Linked DNA regions of Homo sapiens: region 2 is linked to region 1. Evidence: fine-mapped expression QTL. A gene starts in region 1. The other region holds a variant in brackets. All regions are shown on one strand. Distances are from middle to middle.

Region 1 (9,776 bases):
CTTCACACTAACACATTTTTATTAGCGATCCTTTAATAAATATTGCATTCTATGTGGAAGTTCATTTGGAGAATGCTTGGTTATATAGTCACACCAATACCCATCTTTGGAGCTCACTTTAGGCAAGGGTCACATCTCCTACCCCTGTGGTATTAGACACATCCAAGTTTACACTGTAGATTCAGAATAAACAATCATGAGTTACTGTCAGTGATGACAAAGACAAACAGGGCTTGACTTTTTTCAATTCTGTCATTCTATGTAACCAGTTGGACTTTTGTGTTAAAACAGTGGGACAGGCCAGGCGCGGTGGCTCATGCCTGTAATCCCAACACTTTGGGATGCCGAGGTGGGCGGATCATGAGGTCAGGAGATCGAGACCATCCTGGCTAACACAGTGAAACCCCGTCTCTACTACAAATACACACACACAAAAAAATTAGCCAAGAGTGGTGGCAGGCGCCTGTAGTCACAGCTACTTGGGAGGCTGAGGCAGGAGAATGGCATGAACCCGGGAGGCGGAGCTTGCAGTGAGCCGAGATCGCGCCACTGCACTCTAGCCTGGGCAATGGAGCGAGACTCTGTGTCAAAAAAAAAAAAAAAAAAAAAACCAAAACAAAAAAAAAACAAAAACCAGTGGGACAGAGTGCAAACTGAGAGGCAAAACATTTTTGTTTGTTAAGTGCAAATTTTTAATTTGTACATGAAATATGTTACTGAATTTGAATAAAAATTTACCTTTGAAATGAAAACCTATTCCTTTATACTTGTTAATGGTTTTAAAATGAAAGATGAATAAAGGAAATAAATGTTATAGCCTAAGTATTATTGCCTAAATTGTATCTTATTTAGATGCTTTGGTTTTATTAAAATTTGCTTGTTGGTTGCTGGATGACCATTTACATAAGGGAGTATATCAGATTGTAAAGAAAGGATCAAAATTTAAACAGGTAGATGTGAAAATGATTGAAATAAATAGTTGTGCCTTTTTCATTTTTTGGAGCCATAATATTAATTTTATGTATTTATTTTATGATGTGAGTATGCATACAAATTTTGGCAAATAAATTTTTCACTTTTGCCTTTCCTTTTTCTGGCCATTATTATGATTTGTTTCATTTTATGATGATTTGAAAATATGAAATTTGAATTATGGAAATAATTTTATTTTTAGAGGAGGGGGGTATAAAAATGATCTGCTCTGTGTGTCAAACATGATCCATTCTACAAATATTTCCTAAATGCCATGTTGGGAGAAACACTAGGTATGTGGGAACTGAAAGAGGCATCAAATGGGAGTCAGAGATGGCCCCAGGAGGAGGTGATCCTGGAGTTGAGAGCTGAGCCATTGTTAGCCATAGAATCATAGCCACCATTTCTCAAGGGCCTGCTCTCAGCCCCACTCCATACTAGTAGTTGGGGACCCTAAGATACATAAGAGCCTTCTTACCCCACTTGTTATGATAGAGCAAATGTCCCTGCTCTCACTAAAGGCCCACTTGTCTATTGGTACTCCAGATCCTGTCCTTTCTTGATTCATCCATGACTTTGCTCTTATAATTGAGCCCTCTGTTTCTATATCAGTTTCTCCTTTGGTGCATCCCCATCAGCCTATAACATGCCCTCCCTTAACTGCCACCTCATTTTTCTGCTCTCATTCGTAGCAAAACTTCTTGTTTAGAGTTTAGAGATAATGTCCCACTCCATCAACTCCTCTTCCCTTGGCAGCCCAGTCCAATCAGGCTTCCTTTCTACTGCACTTGGTTTTGTCAGAGTCACCAGTGACCTCCGTCTTGCCAAATCCAGTAGTCACTTACCTGTTTATTTCAACCTCTCAGGTTCTTTGGATGACTTTGCTGTTCTGCTGGGCCTTAAATGTAGGAGTCCCCAGGCTCTGTCCTCTGTCCTGTTGTCAAACTATCTCCAGTGTTGATAGCATCCACTCTAATGGCCTTCTAACTACCATCTCTATGCTGACAACACCCAAGTTTACATTTACAGCCCTGACCTTCTCTGAGCATAATTAATAGACATCTCAAAATCAGTGTCTAAAATGGAATTCTTGTTTCAGTTGCCTCCAAATCTGCTCCTCTTCCTATCTTTCCATATACCAAGTGGCACGATCATCATGCAGTTGCTCAAGCCAATAATCTAGGAGCCTTTTTGATTCCTCTTTCCCTCCCTCCCTACCCCCTTCTGATCCATTACAAATTCTGTTTTTCATTCTTTTTTTTTAGAGATGGGATCTCACTATGTTGCCAAGGTTGGAGTGCACTGGCCATTCACAGGTGTAGTAATCCCATTACCAATCAGCATAGGAGTTTTGACCTACTCTATTTCTGACCTGGGCCAGTTCATCCCTCCTTAGGCAACCTGGTGGTGCCCCACTCCTGGGAGCTCACCATACTGATGCTGAACTTAGTGTGGACACCCAATCAGCACAGCACACTGCAGCCCAGACCTCCTGGGCTCAAGTGGTCTCCCGCCTCAGCCTCCTGAGTAGCTGGGACTACAGGTGGGCACCACCTCCATGACCAAACACTGACATCTCTTTCTTGGACAGCTCCTTTTTTATTTATTTTATTTTATTTTATTTTATTTTATTTATTTTATTTTATTTTATTTTATATTTTATTTTATTTTATTTTTTGAGACGGAATTTTGCTCTTGTTGCCCAGGCTGGAGTGCAATGGCGCGATCTCGACACACTGGAACCTCCACCACCCGGATTCAAGCGATTCTCCTGCCTCAGCCTCCTGAGTAGCTGGGATTACAGGCACGCGCCACCACGCCTGGCTAATTTTTTATTTTTAGTAGAGACGGGGTTTCACCATGTTGGCCAGGCTGGTCTCAAACTCCTGACCTCAAGTGATCTGCCCGCCTCAGCCTCCCAAAGTGCTGGCGTTGCAGGCGTGAACCACTGCGCCCAGCCTCATCTCCTTTAGATTTCTAACTGGTGTCTCTGCACCCCTCTGGCCCTTTATAATCCATAAGGAGCCAAATGGTTTATTTTAAAAACATATATCAGATCACATCAAATTCCTGTTTAAAAGCATCAGTGGCTTCCCGCCACACTTAGAATAAAATCCAAATTCCTTTCTATGGTCTTCAAGGCCCTATCCCTCTGTCCTCGTGTCACTGTCCATGTGGTATCACCGTGGTCACCTTGCCTTCAATTTCCTTCTAGCACCGTTGGGCTCTTTTTTGCCTTAGAGCCCTTCAATCTTCCTATGGCTGGCTCCTTTCAGGCATTTCATTTTCAGCTCACATTTCTGTTTTGGTTTTCCATAGCACTCACCACCACCTAAAATTATAATAGTTAACAACTTTATTACTCATTTCTTGTCTTCCCGTATAAGATGGAAATTGACAGCAAGGACTTTGTTCTGTCCTGTTTACTATTTTACCCCTAGTTCAGAGATCAGTGCCCAACACACACGGGGCACTCAGTAAACACTGCGGAATAAACAGGTTGTGCCATGAAGCTCCCAGTCTTCAGTTCGTACAGACAAGGGACAGAGGTGCACAGACTGTAGCAGAAAAGCTCCAGCCCTTCCAAAGCTTATGGCAAGATCCCGACCTGAGAGAGTGCTGGTGGAGGCTCTCCTATCGGTAGAGGCCCTACACCCAACCTTGCCTCTCTCTCCAGCCTCGCCTCTCTCTCCAGCCTCCTCCTGGCTGGAGTTGGAGACCTGGGTGTCCTCAGTCCCCACTTGGGTGAAACAGTTGCTCAGACTGAGGGGTGGAATGGGTCGGTTGGGTGGGCGGACCAAATTCCTTTAAGAAGCGTTCAAGGCCTGAAGTGGCTGGCTGTCCGTGAGGCTGCCTTGGTTGGGGCATGGTGAGGGTGGGTGGCAGCCTGGGGCAGGGCTGCGAGGGCGGCGCAGGGCGGGACGGGTGGGGCCTGACCCCGCCCCTTGGCGCAGCTGTAAATAGGTAAATAGAAGGTGATTGTGGCGTGGCGATGTACCGATACCCGCCTGCGACGCCGTGGTGGCTGGTTCCCTGTCTCTTCAGTAGAGAGTCTAGACCCCACCCAGTCTTCATGTACGGCCGACCGCAGGCTGAGATGGAACAGGAGGCTGGGGAGCTGAGCCGGTGGCAGGCGGCGCACCAGGCTGCCCAGGTGAGTCAGGTGCCAGCCCCTGGCAGGCCGGGCGGGCCCAGGCTAGGGGGCGGCGGGGAGGGGAGGCCTTGGAGGAGAGGTGAGGCGGAGGGAAGCAGAAACCCGAGGGGTAGAAATCCGAGGGGAGGGGTGGCAAAGGAAGGAATGGGAGATTGGGGAGGGGTTGCAAAGGGAGGGATGGGAGATTGGGGAGGGGTTGCAAAGGGAGGGATGGGAGACTGGGGAGGGATTGGAAAGGGAGGGTTGTGAGATTGAGGGTGTAAATCATACGTCGTTTATTCCAACAATGTTCGCCCAGCAGTAGAGCTTGTGTTGGCCGCGTGGCGGGTAAGAGGGTTCTAGGCAACTTTCTGGTGAGGGACTTGAGTAGGCAGGACAGCAAAGACCAAGTTAGGAAGTGAGCAGGAAACAACAGGAAAAAAAAAAAAAACCCCAAAAATGTTAATTGGAGCCCTACTAAGTGGTAGGCTTTTCCCAGACCCTGGAAATACAATGATGAATTTACCATGAAACAGATATATATAAAATTGTATGAATAAATCGTTAACTGAATGATTGGAATTGTACAGCGTTACATGAAGAAGAAGTCAGGGGCGCGTGGGAGCAGATACCAGAGGTGTTTGACCCGATTTGGGAGGCTTAGGAGACAGCTGAGACTCTGTTCTGGGACTAAAGAACCCGTCAGGTGAAAGGTTCCCAGGTCTGAGACCACAGGCTGCATGCTTCCTCTTAGGAGGAACTGAAAGACCAGGGCCTAGACAGTGATGGAAGGGTGGCCCCAGGGACACCATTGAGATCATTCAGGGCTTGTTTATTCCAAGAACAGTGGGAAGCCATTGATGAGTTTAAACATAATCTGTCTCAATTAGATTTGCATTTTCAAAGGAGTGCCCTGGTGGATGTGGGCTGGATTCAAGGCAACAGTTAGAAAGCTTTTGTGATAATCCAGGTGAGAATTCAAATGGCGGCCTACCTGCAGAAGTGAGAGTGGAGATGGAGAAGCTAAATATATCATAGATTGTGGAGATGTTTTGGAGGCAGAGACCACAATCATTGGTCCCCGGGTGGTGAGGGAGACATCTAGAGTAACAGATTTCTTGCTTGCACAATTGGGTGACAATAGTGACATTTTCTGAGAGAGAGTGAAGGATGAGAAGGACAAGATTAATTTGTTGTTTGAGGGAGGTGGGCAAAGATGCTAGTGAATTTTGGCCATAGTCCATTAGAAGAGCATGTGGGCCATCCGAAAGGACTCAAACAATAGGTAGCTGGAAAATTCAGGAGCCATCTTCGCCAGAGCGAAGATTCCAGATTTAGGAATAGTTGGACTGTAAACAGAAACAAAACCACTGGCATGGGGAAGCTTGCCCAGAGAGAGCAGGGAAAGGGAAATCTGCAAAAGAAACTGTGAAGGAGGGGGTCTGAGAGAAGGGAAGGAGAAAAACTTGGAAAGTGTGGCCATGCGTGTTAGAGAGGCCAAGCATTCTAAGAAGGGTGTGGCCAGTGGTCGTATAAGCTCCTGAGAGTTCAAGCGAGGAGTCTGGAAAGTGCTGCTTGGTCATAGTGGGATGGAAGTCATCAGTGGTGACCTTTATGAAAGCTGGTTCTGTGGAGAGATAGAGGCCAGAGCAAATTTGGGAGACTCATAAGGCAAAGTAGTGGTGAAGGCATGTTTAGACAACTTAATTTGCCATGAAGGACTGGGAAAACAAGAGGGCCATTGCTGAGAGTTAGGGAGGAGAGGCTGAGCACCCCAGAGGTGCCCACCCAATAGTCATTTACCTAGTTCCTATTATATGTCTGTCTTATGCTAGTTGCTGAGCATATAGTGGTAAATAAAACAGATAAGGCTGGGCATGGTGGCTCACACCTGTAGTCCCAGCAGCCCAGGAGGCTGAAGCAGAAGGCTCGTTTGAGCTCAGGAGTTTTAGGCTGTGGTCCACAACGATCACACCTGGGCATAGCCACTGCACTTCAGCCTGGGCAACATAGTGAGATCCTGTCTCTAAAATTAATTAAATAAAAAATAAAACAAGATCTTCCCAACTCTTCTAGAGTTTTTTTTAAAAAATGAACATTTTTCTCTATAGCCAAAACCACATAATCAAACGTATCAAAATTGTATATATATATACACTTTCTTTTGAGACAGGGTCTTGGTGCTGTTGTCCAGGCTGGGGTGCAGTGGCACCATCTCAGCTCACTGAAACCTCCGCTTCCCAGGTTCAAGCAATTCTCGTGCCTCAGCCTCCCAAGTAGCTGGGATTACAGGCGTGTGCCACTCCACCCAGCTAATTTTTTGTAATTTTAGTAGCGGGATTTTGCTATGTTTGTCAGGCTGGTCTCAATCTTCTGCCCTCAAATGATCTACCCGCCTCAGCCTCCCAAAGAGGTGGGATTACAGGCATGAGCCGCCACGCCCAGCCGATAATTCCTTTAAATTATCTTAGATGCAAGCCTTATTCAAATGCCCCTAGCTATTCCTAAAATGTACTTCGTAGCTGGTACGTCCAAACCAGAATTTAAGACCATACACTGTATCTGGTGATTATGTCCCTTGAGTCTCTGAAATTAGAATAGTTTTATTTTTTCATGATTGGGATTCAGTTTTTCATGATGCTAACTTTTGTCTTATAGAATGTTCCTTTCCGATATATCAGATTGCTTCCTCATGATAACATTTAGCTTTATCTTCTATCACTTGTATTACCTTTAAGTTATGATTAGATCTTACAGCTTAACTGGATTCAAGATTTTTGGCAAGAATGCCTCATGTGTATGGTAGGTTTCATCTTGCATTACATCAGGAGACACATCTGGCTACCATTTGGTGATACTTGTATTAAGGTAGCGAAAAGCCTCATTGATCTCTCTGTAGAAATTTACCTTGTGGTCAGAAAGTAATCTGTGTGATTCTGCCTTTTGTGTATCCAGTGTCCAGTTCCCTACCAGCCATTCACCTACTGGTTTTAACACCAAATTTAAATTTTTCCTCAATTAAATTTCCTTAGGGATGGCAAAATAAATTTCCTTTTCCTTTATGTCTTTTCCTTTTTTCATTTTTTTGTCCCACTTTTATGTTTATTAAAAACTGACATAAACACAACCTGTACAAAAAATATCCCAAATCCCGTATGACTTTGAAACAGTAATCCTGAGAGACATTATCGCCTAGGACCCCCTCTTCCTCTGCCACGGCCACGTCCTCTTCCTCTTCCTCTGCCTCTGCCTCTTCCTGCAACAGCTTCCCTTTTCTTAGATTTCACCTTAGGTTCAACATCCACAAGTAGTGTATCCAGAGGTAAACTGTCTAGTAGAATAAAATACCGAATGTTATTTCCTCGAATACTCAGCGTTTCCAGCTGTACAGGTTCTCTGTTCTTCGGGGTCATTTTCACAGCTTTAAGATGTGTATTCATGCTGACATCCACACCTGTGACTGTTCCATGGACCTGTGTTCTGTTCTTCAATGCAATGGTTACAGTTTCATGACTCAATTTCATCAAAAATCTCACGAGCTTCATCCTAGCGGTGCCATCACCCTTTGGGTCCGATAGCACACTGAATCCAACAACCGAATACTGACCGACTGCAGTATGAATGGCCGTTTTTGGTTTTTTTTTTGAGATAGAGTCTCACTCTCTCCCCCAGGCTGGAGTGCAGTGGCACGATCTTGGCTCACTGCTGCAACTTCTGCCTCCCAAATTCAAGCGATTCTCATGCCTCAGCCTCCCGAGTAGCTGGGATTACAGGCATGCACCACCACGCCCGGCTACTTTTTTGTATTTTTAGTAGAGACAGGGTTTTGCCATGTTGGCCAGGCTGGTCTTGAACTCCTGACCTCAAGTGATCCACCCCCCTTGGCCTCCCAAAGTACTAGAATTACAGGCATGAGCCACTGCACCTGGCAGCAAAATAAATTTTCTAATTCCACCATTCATTCTACATTTATTAGTTTGTATTCTTCTGTAAAGTAGGAAGTAATATTTAACTGCAATTATTTGGTAATTTTGAATTTTTTTTTCTTTTAGAGGCAGAATAAATGCTTAATTTATTCACTTCTATTAGCAATCTTCAAAGTTAGGATAAGAGCTGAGCTTTTGTCACGTGAGGCTGCAGTGAGCCATGATCATACCACTGTATTCCAGCCCAAAATGAACCATGATTGATCGCACCATTCACATCTCAGCCTCTGGAGTAGCTGGGACTACAGACACTTGCCACTATACCTGGCAATTTTTAGGGTTTTTTTGTAGAAATGGGGGGTCTCACCATGTTGCCCTGGCTGGTCTCGAACTCCTGGCCTCAAGCGATCCACCTGCTTCGTAGTCTCAAAATGCTCAGCCTGTAACAGTCTTGATAGGTTTTGTGTTTCTAGGAATTTGTCCATTTTATCCAGGTTGTCCAATTTGTTGGTGTGCAATTTTTCATAATATTGTATTATAATCCTTTTTACTTCTGTAAAATTGGTAATAATGTCCCCGATTTCATTTCTCATGTTCAATCATTTGAGTCTTTTCTTTTTCCTTAGTTGATCTAGCTAAGTGTTTGGCAATGTTGTTAATCTTTCCTAAGAACTTTTAGTTTCATTGATTTTTTTCATTCCTTTCTTCTGCTGGTTTGGGGTTTAGTGTATTTTTCTAGTTCCTTAAGGTATAAAGTTAGGTTGTTGGTTTGAGATCTTTTTTACTGAAAGCATTTAAACCAGTAGGTTTTCCCCTTATGACTGCTTTTGCTGTATCTATCCCATTAGTTTTGATAGTTATGTTTTCATTTTTATTGGTCTCTAAGTATTTTCTAATTTTCATTGTGATTTTTTTATTTGACCCATTGATTGTTTCAGAGAGTGCTATTTAATTTCCACACAGATTTGTAAATTTTCTAGTTTATCTGGTTGTGGGTCAGAGAAGATACTTTGTATGATACCTTTTTTTTTTTATTTTTTTCTAAAAGCGGCAAGAGAAAAGTTTATTTTGAAATCTATTGAGACTTAATTTGTGATCTACTATATGGTCTTCTGAAGAATGTCCCATGAACACTTTCGAAGAATGGATATTCTATTGTTGAGTGGAGTGTTCTGTGTATGTCTGTTAGATCTACTTGGTTTATTGTGGTGTTTGGATCTAAATATATATACAGCATATATTTGGATCATGTTTTTAATCCATTCTGCCAAATTGTCTTTTGGAAAGTATTATCCATTTACTTTCCAAAGTATTTTACTTTCAAGGAATGATTTAATTCTGCCATTCTTTTCCTCATTTCCAGCATTGTCTTTTTGTTTGATTTTTTTTTTTGTAGTGAAAATACATTTCCTTAAAACACAATTTCCTTTTGTATATATTCTTTTTTTTTTTTTGAGACAGAGTCTCGCTGTGTTGCCCAGGCTGGAGTGCAGTGGCTGGATCTCAGCTGACTGCAACCTCTACCTCCTGGGTTCAAGTGATTCTCCTGCCTCAGCCTCTGAGTAGCTAGGACTACAGGCACGTGCCACCACACTTGGCTAATTTTTTTTTTTTTTTTTTTGAGATGGAGTCTCACTGTCGCCCAGGCTGTAGTGCAGTGGCACGATCTCGGCTCACTGCAGGCTCCGCCCCCGGGGTTCACGCCATTCTCCTGCCTCAGCCTCCCGAGTAGGTGGGACTACAGG
Region 2 (9,776 bases), 69 kb before region 1:
AATGTTGGAGTGTTCAAAACTCAATTCCAGACTCTCTTCTCCTTTTTCTTTGAACCTTCTTAGGTGGCTCATCATGACATCATGTTTGGGGCTTGACATCACCATGATGGGACTATTTACACCCTGGAATTTGGAAACGTTGCAAATCAATGTCTTGTTTTTCTTGAAGAGGCAATAGTTAAACAGTTGCCAGCACCCACTGCCCAACACCATTGTCACAAAAACTTTGTTTTATCCAGGCCTGGTCTTACCCACAACACTATTTCACTCAAATGCTTTCTCAACATACTTTCACACACAACCCAGTGTTATCCCCAAACTATTTGACCCCAGTTTAGCCCTGAGCCCATTTTCATCCAGAATGTGTCCCTCCCACAGTCATTTGCATCCAATGTTCTCTAGACACCACCATCAGCAACACAGAATCACACATATCACACATAACTAAGCTGCACATAACTCAATGTTGTCACTAGGTAGTGTGTCAGATCTGTGCCCTCCAGACCCTCCTAACACAATCATTGTCACCCAGTCTTGGTGTATGTAGACGTTTTCTTAATATTTCTTAATATTCTATTTAGGATGAGCTTATCATGGAACATAAGAAAAATAAAACAGATGTCAGCCTGTGTATGAAGAATTCATCCACAAGATTTGGTAAAGGATAATAATAATAATAATAATAATAATAATAATAATAGCTATCATACATTCATTGGGTACTTACTAGTACCAGGCCAGTTCTAAGCACTTTTTTTTTTTTTTTGAGACAGAGTCTCATTATTCTGTCCCCCAGGCTGGAGTGTTGTGGGGGCAATCACGGCTCACTGCAGCCTTGACCTCCTGGACTCAAGTGATTCTCCTGCCTCAGCCTTGCAAGTAGCTGGGACTACAGGTGCATGCCACTACGCCTGGCTAATTTTTTAAAATTTTATTTGTAGAGACGGGGTCTGCTGGAGTTGCCTAGGCTAGTCGTGAACTCCTGGGCTCAAGCAGTCCTCTTCCTTGGCCTCCCAAAGTACTGCAATTACAGGCATGGTCTGCCACGCCCAACCTAAGCACTACACACACACTCACACACACACACACACACACACACACACTCATCTAATCTTCACAACAATCCTATGAAGTAGATACTATATGTTCTTCATTTTAACAGCTCAGGAAATGGATGTGCAGAGGTTAAGTAACTGGTTCAAGTCCATGTGGCTAGTAAATAGCAAATCTAGAATCTGATCTGAGGCAGTCTGGCTTAAAAATATGCATTCTTAGCTGGGTACAGTGGCTCACGCCTGTAATCCCAGCACATTGGGAGGCCGAGAGGCAGCTGCATCACTTGAGGTCAGGAGTTCAAGACCAGCCTGGGCAATATGGTGAAACCTGGTCTCTACTAAAAATACAAAAATTAGCTAGGTGTGATGGTGTGCACCTGTAATCCCAGCTACTCAGGAGGCTGAGGCAGGAGAATCGCTTGAACCAGGGAGGCGGAGGCTGCAGTGAGCCGAGCGAGATCGTGCCACTGCACTCCAGCCTAGACAACAGAGCAAGACTCAGTCTCAAAAAAAAAAAAAAAAAAAAAAGCATTCTCTGTACTAGGCTACAGACATGTCCTTGAAAGTATTTATGCTTACTTTGTTGTTGTTGCCTCCTGTGATTAGAAAATATTATGTTTAGATATGCTTGTTTTTATTTTAAAATGTACAAGAAGAAGTAATGTTGTATTAGTCAGTAAGCTTTGGTCATAGAAATGTTTTCTTTGCAAAGGGTTGCCCATTTTTGTTTTCCTAAGATGGAGCAATTGTACTCATAGCATTGAGCCACCCATTCCTCTGAGTGGGCTAATGAGAGGTTGGTCATGAATTTTGATCTGATGACTTTGAGGAGAGAGAACCGTAAGCACTGGTCCTGGGGTAAAGGGTGGTGTGGTAGGGAGGGAGGAGGAGGACAGATGGTGGGAACCAGAAGAACCAGGTCCAGACAGGCTCCAGCCTGGTCATGAGATGGGGCTGCCATGGTTGATAAATGCTTGAGGTTTGGTTGATGATCTGAGGCCCAGTTCAACTCTTGGCTTCCCCTGGAGCATTGCTGGGGACCCGGCACAGTGACATCAACATCACTAGTAGCCCATCTGCCATCAGTCACATCCATCTTGAGGGAAAGAATGCTTAGATCGTGAGAGCATCCTGCCCTGGGACCAAGGATTTGAGAATGAGGGCACGAGTCGGGGTGCTACTTCCTTCCTTGTTCATATCACCTATTTCCTTCTTAGGTGCCTGGTACAAGGAATAATTAGATAGAAACACATGGGTAGCTTAGATAGGGAAGAGGAAGAATCCCTTAGGAGTCTACAGACGCCATACTGCAACACATTGGCATTAGAAGTAGGATTGTAGTGTCCTCTAGTGGACACTTTGTGAATTTACATAGTATTATTTACTGGATGTGGCCAATAAAGGTGGGCTGAATCCAGAAAAGGGAAGATTGGCATCCAGAGTGTTTGGAGAGTGGGCCCATAAGAGAACATTGTGTGTGTATGTGTGTGTGTGTGTGTGTGTGTGTGTGTGTGTGTGTGCACGTGCACGCACGTATGTGTTGGGGGCTGTGTAGCTTCTCCTAACTTCACCATGCAGAAGTCAAGGAAACGGTTACAGAGGCAAAATGTGGGAGTAGCTAATGGCAATGGCCCAGAGAGATGAAAAAATGTGAGAAAACCAAAGCTTGGAGGTAGGAACTTTCCGATTCTTTTGGAGTAGACTAAGGTGACTTAAGTAGGAAAAGAACGCATAGCCAGTAACTCTCCCAACAGAACTGGATTCGTGCCTGGGGTGATTCAGGATGTCCAGTTAAGCTGGGAAATACTGATTCCACTGATCCCCTTCATTCACTCAGAGCAGACCGAAGACTGTGAGACTTCCTCCCCACAGTGAGCTAAAAGGACGCTTTTGTCAGAGTGGGGAAATAAAAGGGCTTTATGGGAAGGAAGATAAGAACAGATGAGTCAGAGGTTTCTGCTTAATGGTGAGTATTTTTGTCTTAAAATGTGTGTTTTTCTTCTTTGGAGAAGGTACTGCACTCTTTTTGTGTTTTGAGCTGGAGACTTTCTTTGATATGACTGGGTTTTAAGCTAGTTGGTTACAAATGAATATTTGGGGCTTTAGAAAATATTCTTTATGTTTGGATGGGATCTCCTAAGTACATAAATAAATTGTTTTATTATTAACCTAAGTTTCTCTTGGTGAAATTTTCTGTGTGTTTGACTGGCCACAGTGTAATTTGCTTAATTTTTGAACACAGTAAGATTTATCTACAAATTAGAGGTGTTGCAAAGTTGATTTAGTTTGATAATGATTAGTTTTCTTTGTTTTTATGTGTGTACACAGTGCATTGGGTTTAATAAGCTTTTTATTGGAGTAAATCATTCGTGCAGAAAAATGCATTAATCATAAGCATATAGCTTAATGCGTCACCACAACTTGAACACATTTGTGTAAACATAACTGTCTTAGTCTGCTGGGGCTGCTATAGCAAAATGCCACAGACTGGGTGGCTTAAACAACAGACATTTATTTCTCACAATTCTGGAGCCTGGGAAGTCCAAGATCAAGGTGCTGGCGGGGTTGGGTTCTGGTGAGGGCTCTCTTCCTGGCTTGTAGATGACTGCCTTCTCACTGTGTCTTCACAGTGTAGAGAGAGCATGAGCAAGCTCTCTGGTCTCTTCTTATAAGGGCACTAATCCCATCATGAGGACCCTACCCTCATCACCGCATCTAAACCTAATTTCTTCCCAACGACCCCGTCTCCTAATCCCACCACATTTGGGATTAGGGACTCAGTGCATGAATTTGGGGGGCACACAACATTTAGTTCATAATAATAACCATCCAGTAAAGATGCCTCTCTTGTGCTACCTCCCAATCCCAGCCCTCTGCCCTCCCCAAGGTGACCACTAGCTTAACTTCTAACCACATAGAGTTTTGCCTGTTTTTGAATTTCATATAGTTAGAATTATACAGTATATATTCTTTTCTTTTTGAGAGAAGGTCTCACTCTGTCACCCAGGCTGGAGTGCAGTAGCACGATCTCAGTTCACTGCAACCTCTGCTTCCCAGGGTCAAGCAATCCTCTGAGCTCAGCCTCCTGAATAGCTGGGACTACAGGCATGTGCCACCATGCCTGGCTAATTTTTGTATTGTTTGTAGGGATGGGGTTTCACCAGGTGGTCCAGGCTGGTCTTTAACTCCTGGACTCAGAAAATCCACCCACCTTGGCCTCCCAAAGGGTTGGAATTACCAGCGTGAGCCGCC[G/A]TACCCGGCCTATGTATTGTTTTCAATCTATAAGGTTTATCTGTGCTGTTATGTATAGTAGCATGTTCATTTCCATTGTGGTATACTATTCCATTGCATGAATATATAATAATTTATCCATTTTAGCTTTTCAGTTTCAAATAATGTGTATCTTTTGGAGTAGACTAAGGTGACTTAAGTAGGAAAAGAATGCATAGCCAGTAACTCTCCCAACAGAATTGGATTCATGCCTGGGGTGATTCAGGATGTCCGGTTAAGTTGAGAAATACTGTACATCTTGGAGTACAGTTACTGTCTCCTGGCATATGCATATCTTCACCTTTAGTAGATAGCATCGCATGGTTTTATAAAGTGGTTTTACCAATTTATGCTGCCACCAGCAATGTGTGAGTTCAGCAATGATAAAAGTTATTTACACCACAGAAATTGGCAACTTTTACAAATCAGAGTTTCTTTCTTAACCAGTTGTAAAATAATTACCAGCACACCACTGCCAATGAGGTAGGAGGCAGGACTTGGACTCCGGACCAGATTGAGACTAGCTGAAAGGGGAAGAGGCAAAAGCACCTCTCCAAAAGACATGCTGACCAGTGCCATGTCAGTTTACTATTGCCATGGCAACAACTGGATACCACCCCTTTCTATGGCAGTGACCCAACAACTGGGAAGTTACCACCCTTGTTCTAGAAATTTTTGCATAATCCACCCCTAATTTGCATGTACTTAAAAGTGGGCATAAACATGACTGCCGAGCTGCCCTGAGCTGCTACTCTCTACACACTGCCTATGGGGTAGCCCTGCTGTGCAGGAGCAGTCACAGATCCCTAACACTACACTGCCTCCTCAATAAAGCTGTTTTCTTGGCCGGCCACAGTGGCTCACACCTATAATCCCACCACTTTGGGAAGCCAAGGTGGGCAGATCACTTGAGGTCAGGAGTTTGAGACCAGCCTGGCTAATATGGTGAAACTCTGTCTCTACTAAAAATACAAAAATTAGCCAGGCGTGGTGGTGTGCACCTGTAATCCCAGCTACTCAGCAGGCTGAGGCATGAGGATTGCTTGAACCTGGGAGGCGGAGGTTGCAGTGAGCTGAGATCGCACCATTACACCCCAGCCTGGGCGACAGAGCGAGACTCCGTCTTAAAAAAAAAAATCCTGTTTTCTTCTACCACCAGCTCACTCTTCAATTCTTTCCCGAGCAAAACCAAGAATCTTCTTGGGCTAAGCCCCAATTTGGGGTTCACCTGCCTTGCAGCAACATGGCACCAAACATGCGGCAGAAGAGAGAAAACGACAGCATGAGAGACGGAGAAAGAAATGGCCAGTTGGCAAGGTGGTAATGAGAGACAGCAGTTGGCAAGACAGTGAGAGACAGCAAGAGATGGCAAGTGACAGTTATTGTTAAGATGACAAATGGAGAGATGGCAAGAAATAGAGAAGCAGTCAGTGATGGAGGCTGCAAGAGTTGTAACACTAACCAAAGGCTCTTTTTAGAATCATCGTTTTCCCTGGCAGGTGGTACAGCCAAGCAGACAGGCAAGTAAGTGGCCATACTGCTACTGCCTCATGTAGGATCCGGCAGGCTGGTGGGTTATCAGTCCTCACGTGGGACCCTCCCACCATGGCAGCTGAGCACATCCAAGCTGGGGGATCCTGAAGAGACCTTCACCTGGGTGCCACGTGGAAGATTGGCCAGCACCATTTTGACTCCTGTGGATGGGTGAGTGTTTTGCCCACCCCCACCCCAATAACATCAGGTAAGCTCAGGAATTAAAGCCTTTGGCTAAGAGGTCAGTTAAAAGTCCCTCATCATTTGGATACCCTTAAACACTTCCTTGTCCTTGTCACCCTTTTCCCTGATTGTTTCCCCTCTGACTCCATTGTATTGCTCCACCAGTCGTTTTATTTTCAGTCCTAAGATGTATGTTTTGTTGGCAGTCTTTGTTTTCATTTTGATTTTCTGTTGACTAAATTTGGGGAATGATTTAAGGCAGGACACTTGGCCATGCAAGGCCTCCTGTTGTGTTGTTCTGTGACCTCCAACTTGGCCTGAGGTTTGCTGTTGGCCAACCCCCTGGTGCCCTGGGGTTTTCAGCATTTGGTGAGGGGACCCTTGTTGGCTGAAACTCAGGTACTCCAGGTTTTTCAGCATTGGTATTGCTGAAAATGCTCTGGGGTTTTCGGCATTGACATTCCCTCTTTCATTGAGTGGATAGAGGCTTTCCCCACAGGAACAGAAAAAGGCATTAGAAGTGTCCAAATTCTTACTTAAAGAGATCATTGCAAGGTTTGGGTTACCTAGAAGTCTGCTCAGTGATAACAGAACCTCCTTCACAGCTAAAGTGACCCAGCAGGCTTCCTGAGCCTTAGGCATTACCTGTCATCTTCACTCTTGGAGACCTCAATCCTCAGGTAAGGTAGAAAAAGCTATTTCTCCCCTAGGGGAATCTTGGTCTTGCCTTTTTCTGCTCTGAAGTTAGAAGTTATTATTTTCCTAATAGCCAGTTGCAGACCTCTTCCTGTGTGCTGTCTTACAACTGCATAACTGTCTTGCTTAAGCCCTCTTGGTTGAAGGGGACTGGGAGTTCCCAGGCCCCTGATGGACAGCCACCAACAGCAGTAGAAAAGTGGCCACCTGAACGTTGTTTTTGGTGTCTCTCCTACTGGGTAGGTTCTCTGGCAGTGAGGGCCCCTGAGGTCTCCCCTTGGGCAATGCTATTTACCCCTGCCCTTCTTCCCTTCCACTGTCACCATTTGTTTAGTCTCTCTCTGCCTAACCCTCACTCTCTGTGGAATTTAGGCCAACATTCTGTTTCCCATTTGCAGCTTATAATCCACTTTTATAACACCTTGCTGTCTATATTTACACCTTCTTTGTACAAAGTGGGAATTTAAAAGGGAAAAGTAACTAGGCATTTGCTAAGCTTAGGTCACTAAAACCCCCATAGAGAGCCTTACTAGACATGGGGCAGCAGAGAGCATCCTGAAGGACTTGACGTGAGGGTGTCTTTTAGGCAATTGGAGTAAATTCAAATTAGACAAATTGAAAAAGAAAAAATTTATTTTCTGTTGCAACAATGTTTAGGTTCTATATAAATTGGCAAGCCAACAGATGTGGCCTAGGCAGGATTTTTTTTTTTTTTTTTGAGACAGTCTTACTCTGTTGCACAGGCTGGAGTGCAGCGGCAAGATCTCGACTTGCCACAACCTCTGCCTCCTGGTTCAAGCGATTCTCCTGCCTCAGCCTCCCAAGTAGCTGGGATTACAGGCGCAGGCTACCATGACCAACTAATTTTTTGTATTTTTAGTAGAGATGGGGTTTCACCATGTTGGCCAGGCTGGTCTCGAACTCCTAACCTCAAGTGATCTGCCTGCCTTGGCCTCTCAAAGTGCTAGGATTACAGATGTGAGCCACTGCACCCGGCCTCATGATTCTTTATGTTATAATGATATTGTACAATTAGAATTTGTTTTGTAAAAAGGAAGGAAAATGGGAAGAAGTCCCTTATGTGCAGGCTTTTCTGGCCATCTACCAGGATCTTAAGGGCTAGCTGTAGAACATGTCTGGCTTATGATACTCCCAGCCACCCAGAAGCACATCAGGTATTGTAGATGACCTTCTCTTAGCTGTTCCCCCATGAGGCCTGTGTCCCCACTTTGAAGCCTCTCCAGTCCCCTAGTTCTGGGGGGGGAGGACACCACTTCTCTAGTGCAGAATTCCACCTCAAAGTCAGCAGGCATCCCTCCCCTTTATCCAACAGGTCCTGGCCCATATCCCCTACTGCCGGAGGAAGTAAACCCAACCAGTACTACCAGGAGTTGGGCCCCATATCAGCTGCCAAAATTAGACCTGTGTCCATTGTGAGAGGTAGCTGACAGGCATGGAGGAACAACCACAAGATATGTGCCTTTTTCATGTTTGATTTGGCTTTATGCAAGGAAAAATTTGGTTGTGTTTTAGAGGATCCTGGGAAGTTTACAGAGGAGTTTGTTAAGTTGAGCGTATTCTTTGATTTAACTTGGCATGACATGCAAATATTACTATCCACTTGTTGTACTGTAGAGGAAAAACAAAGAATTCTAGATACTGTCCGTGAACATGCAGATGGAGTAGCCACCCAACCCAGGCCATGCCATATCGTGTGGGAGGAGATGCAATTCCAGATCTAGGCTCTCAATTGGATTACTAGACAGGTTCTCAAGATCTTAAATGCAGAAATCACAGGCTAATTTGTTTAACATGAAAAAGTGTGTGCTTAAGCCAGTCAGTTATGACAAGGTGAGAGAAATAACTCAGGACAAAGATGAAAACCCTGCTCTATTTCAGGGCCGTTTTCTTGGGGCACTCAGGAAATATGCTAATGCAGACCCAGACTCCCCAGAAGGGTGGGTTCTCCTGGGTGTGCATTTTATCACTCAATCTGCCCCTGACATCAGGAGGAAGCTACAAAAGGTAGCAATGGGGCCCCCATGAGCCAACCCTTAGACGTTGCTTTTAGGGTTTACAACAACAGGGACAAGGCAGAGGAAGAGGCAAAAGCCAAAAAGTTGGCCAAAAAATCACAATTGTTAGTGGCTGCTTTAGGCCCTCTGCTGCTTCAGGGTTACCCACCCCAGGAAAATATGGGAAGATCAGTGTCTGGGATGCTTAGATGAGAGTCCCACCACTTGCTGGACTCTAGGCAAAAATCAAATCAGTGTGCCTTTTTTTTTTTTTTTTTTTTGAGACAGAGTCTTGCTCTGTCGCCCGGGCTGGAGTGCAGTGGTGTGATCTCAGCTCACTGCAAGCTCCACCTCCCGGGTTCATGCCATTCTCCTGCCGCAGCCTCCCAAGTAGCTGGGACTACAGGCGCTCACCACCATGACCGGCTAATTTTTTTGTATTTTTAATAGAGACGGGGTTTCACCGTGTTAGCCAGGATGGTCTCAGTCTCCTGACCTCATGATCCACCCGCCTTGGCCTCCCAGAGTGCTGGGATTACAAGCGTGAGCCACCGTGCCCAGCTTTTTTTTTTTTTTTTTTGAGACGGAGTCTTACTCTGTCACCCAGGCTGGAATGCAGTGGCCTGATCTTGGCTTACTGCAACCTCTGCCTCCTGGGTTCAAGCAATTCTCCTGCCTCAGCCTCCCAAGTAGCTGGGACTACAGGTGTGTGCCACCACACCTGGCTAATTTTTTGTATTTTTAGTAGAGACAGGGTTTCACTGTGTTAGCCAGGATGGTCTTGATCTCCTGACCTCGTGATCCACCCGCCTCAGCCTCCCAAAGTGCTGGGATTACAGGTATAAGCCACCATGCCTGGCCCAGTGTGCCTTCTGTAAACAAGAAGGCTACTGGAAGAAGGACTGTCCCAGGCTTAAAGGGGAGTCTGAGACACCCAGATCCATAATGGCCAAGAAAGCATAGGACTGATGGGGCCTGCGGTCCTCTACAACTCCTACTGGACACCTTACCATCTCCATAGAGG

Alleles and levels. Positions count from the first base shown, and alleles are read on the strand shown. Sizes are in standard deviations (SD) of each study's normalised expression.
In carriers of allele G in region 2, the expression in fibroblasts of the gene that starts at base 3,959 in region 1 tends to be higher than with A alone (small effect, 0.22 SD a copy in GTEx).

The links. PIP is the estimated chance that this variant, and not a neighbour inherited with it, causes the effect.
Region 2: its variant is the best candidate, but not a certain one, in a credible set for the expression of KLF17 in fibroblasts (GTEx, PIP 0.62).

The regions. Positions count from the first base shown.
Region 1 is chr1:44,114,863-44,124,638 of GRCh38, forward strand. It overlaps KLF17 (KLF transcription factor 17), which reads left to right and starts at 3,959. Exons shown (of 4, transcript NM_173484.4): 1 at 3,959-4,126. The coding sequence starts at 4,046. It also overlaps the pseudogene RN7SL479P and the pseudogene LOC100129492. RefSeq lists a promoter at 2,948-3,936 and an enhancer at 4,505-5,272.
Region 2 is chr1:44,045,466-44,055,241 of GRCh38, forward strand. It overlaps LOC124904169 (a long non-coding RNA gene), which reads right to left. Exons shown (of 3, transcript XR_007066056.1): 3 at 1-123. It also overlaps a transcript of KLF17 not described here. Among named protein-coding and RNA genes, the nearest start is that of SLC6A9, 19 kb to the left of the region's middle. The variant G/A (reference allele first, on the strand shown) is at 4,308.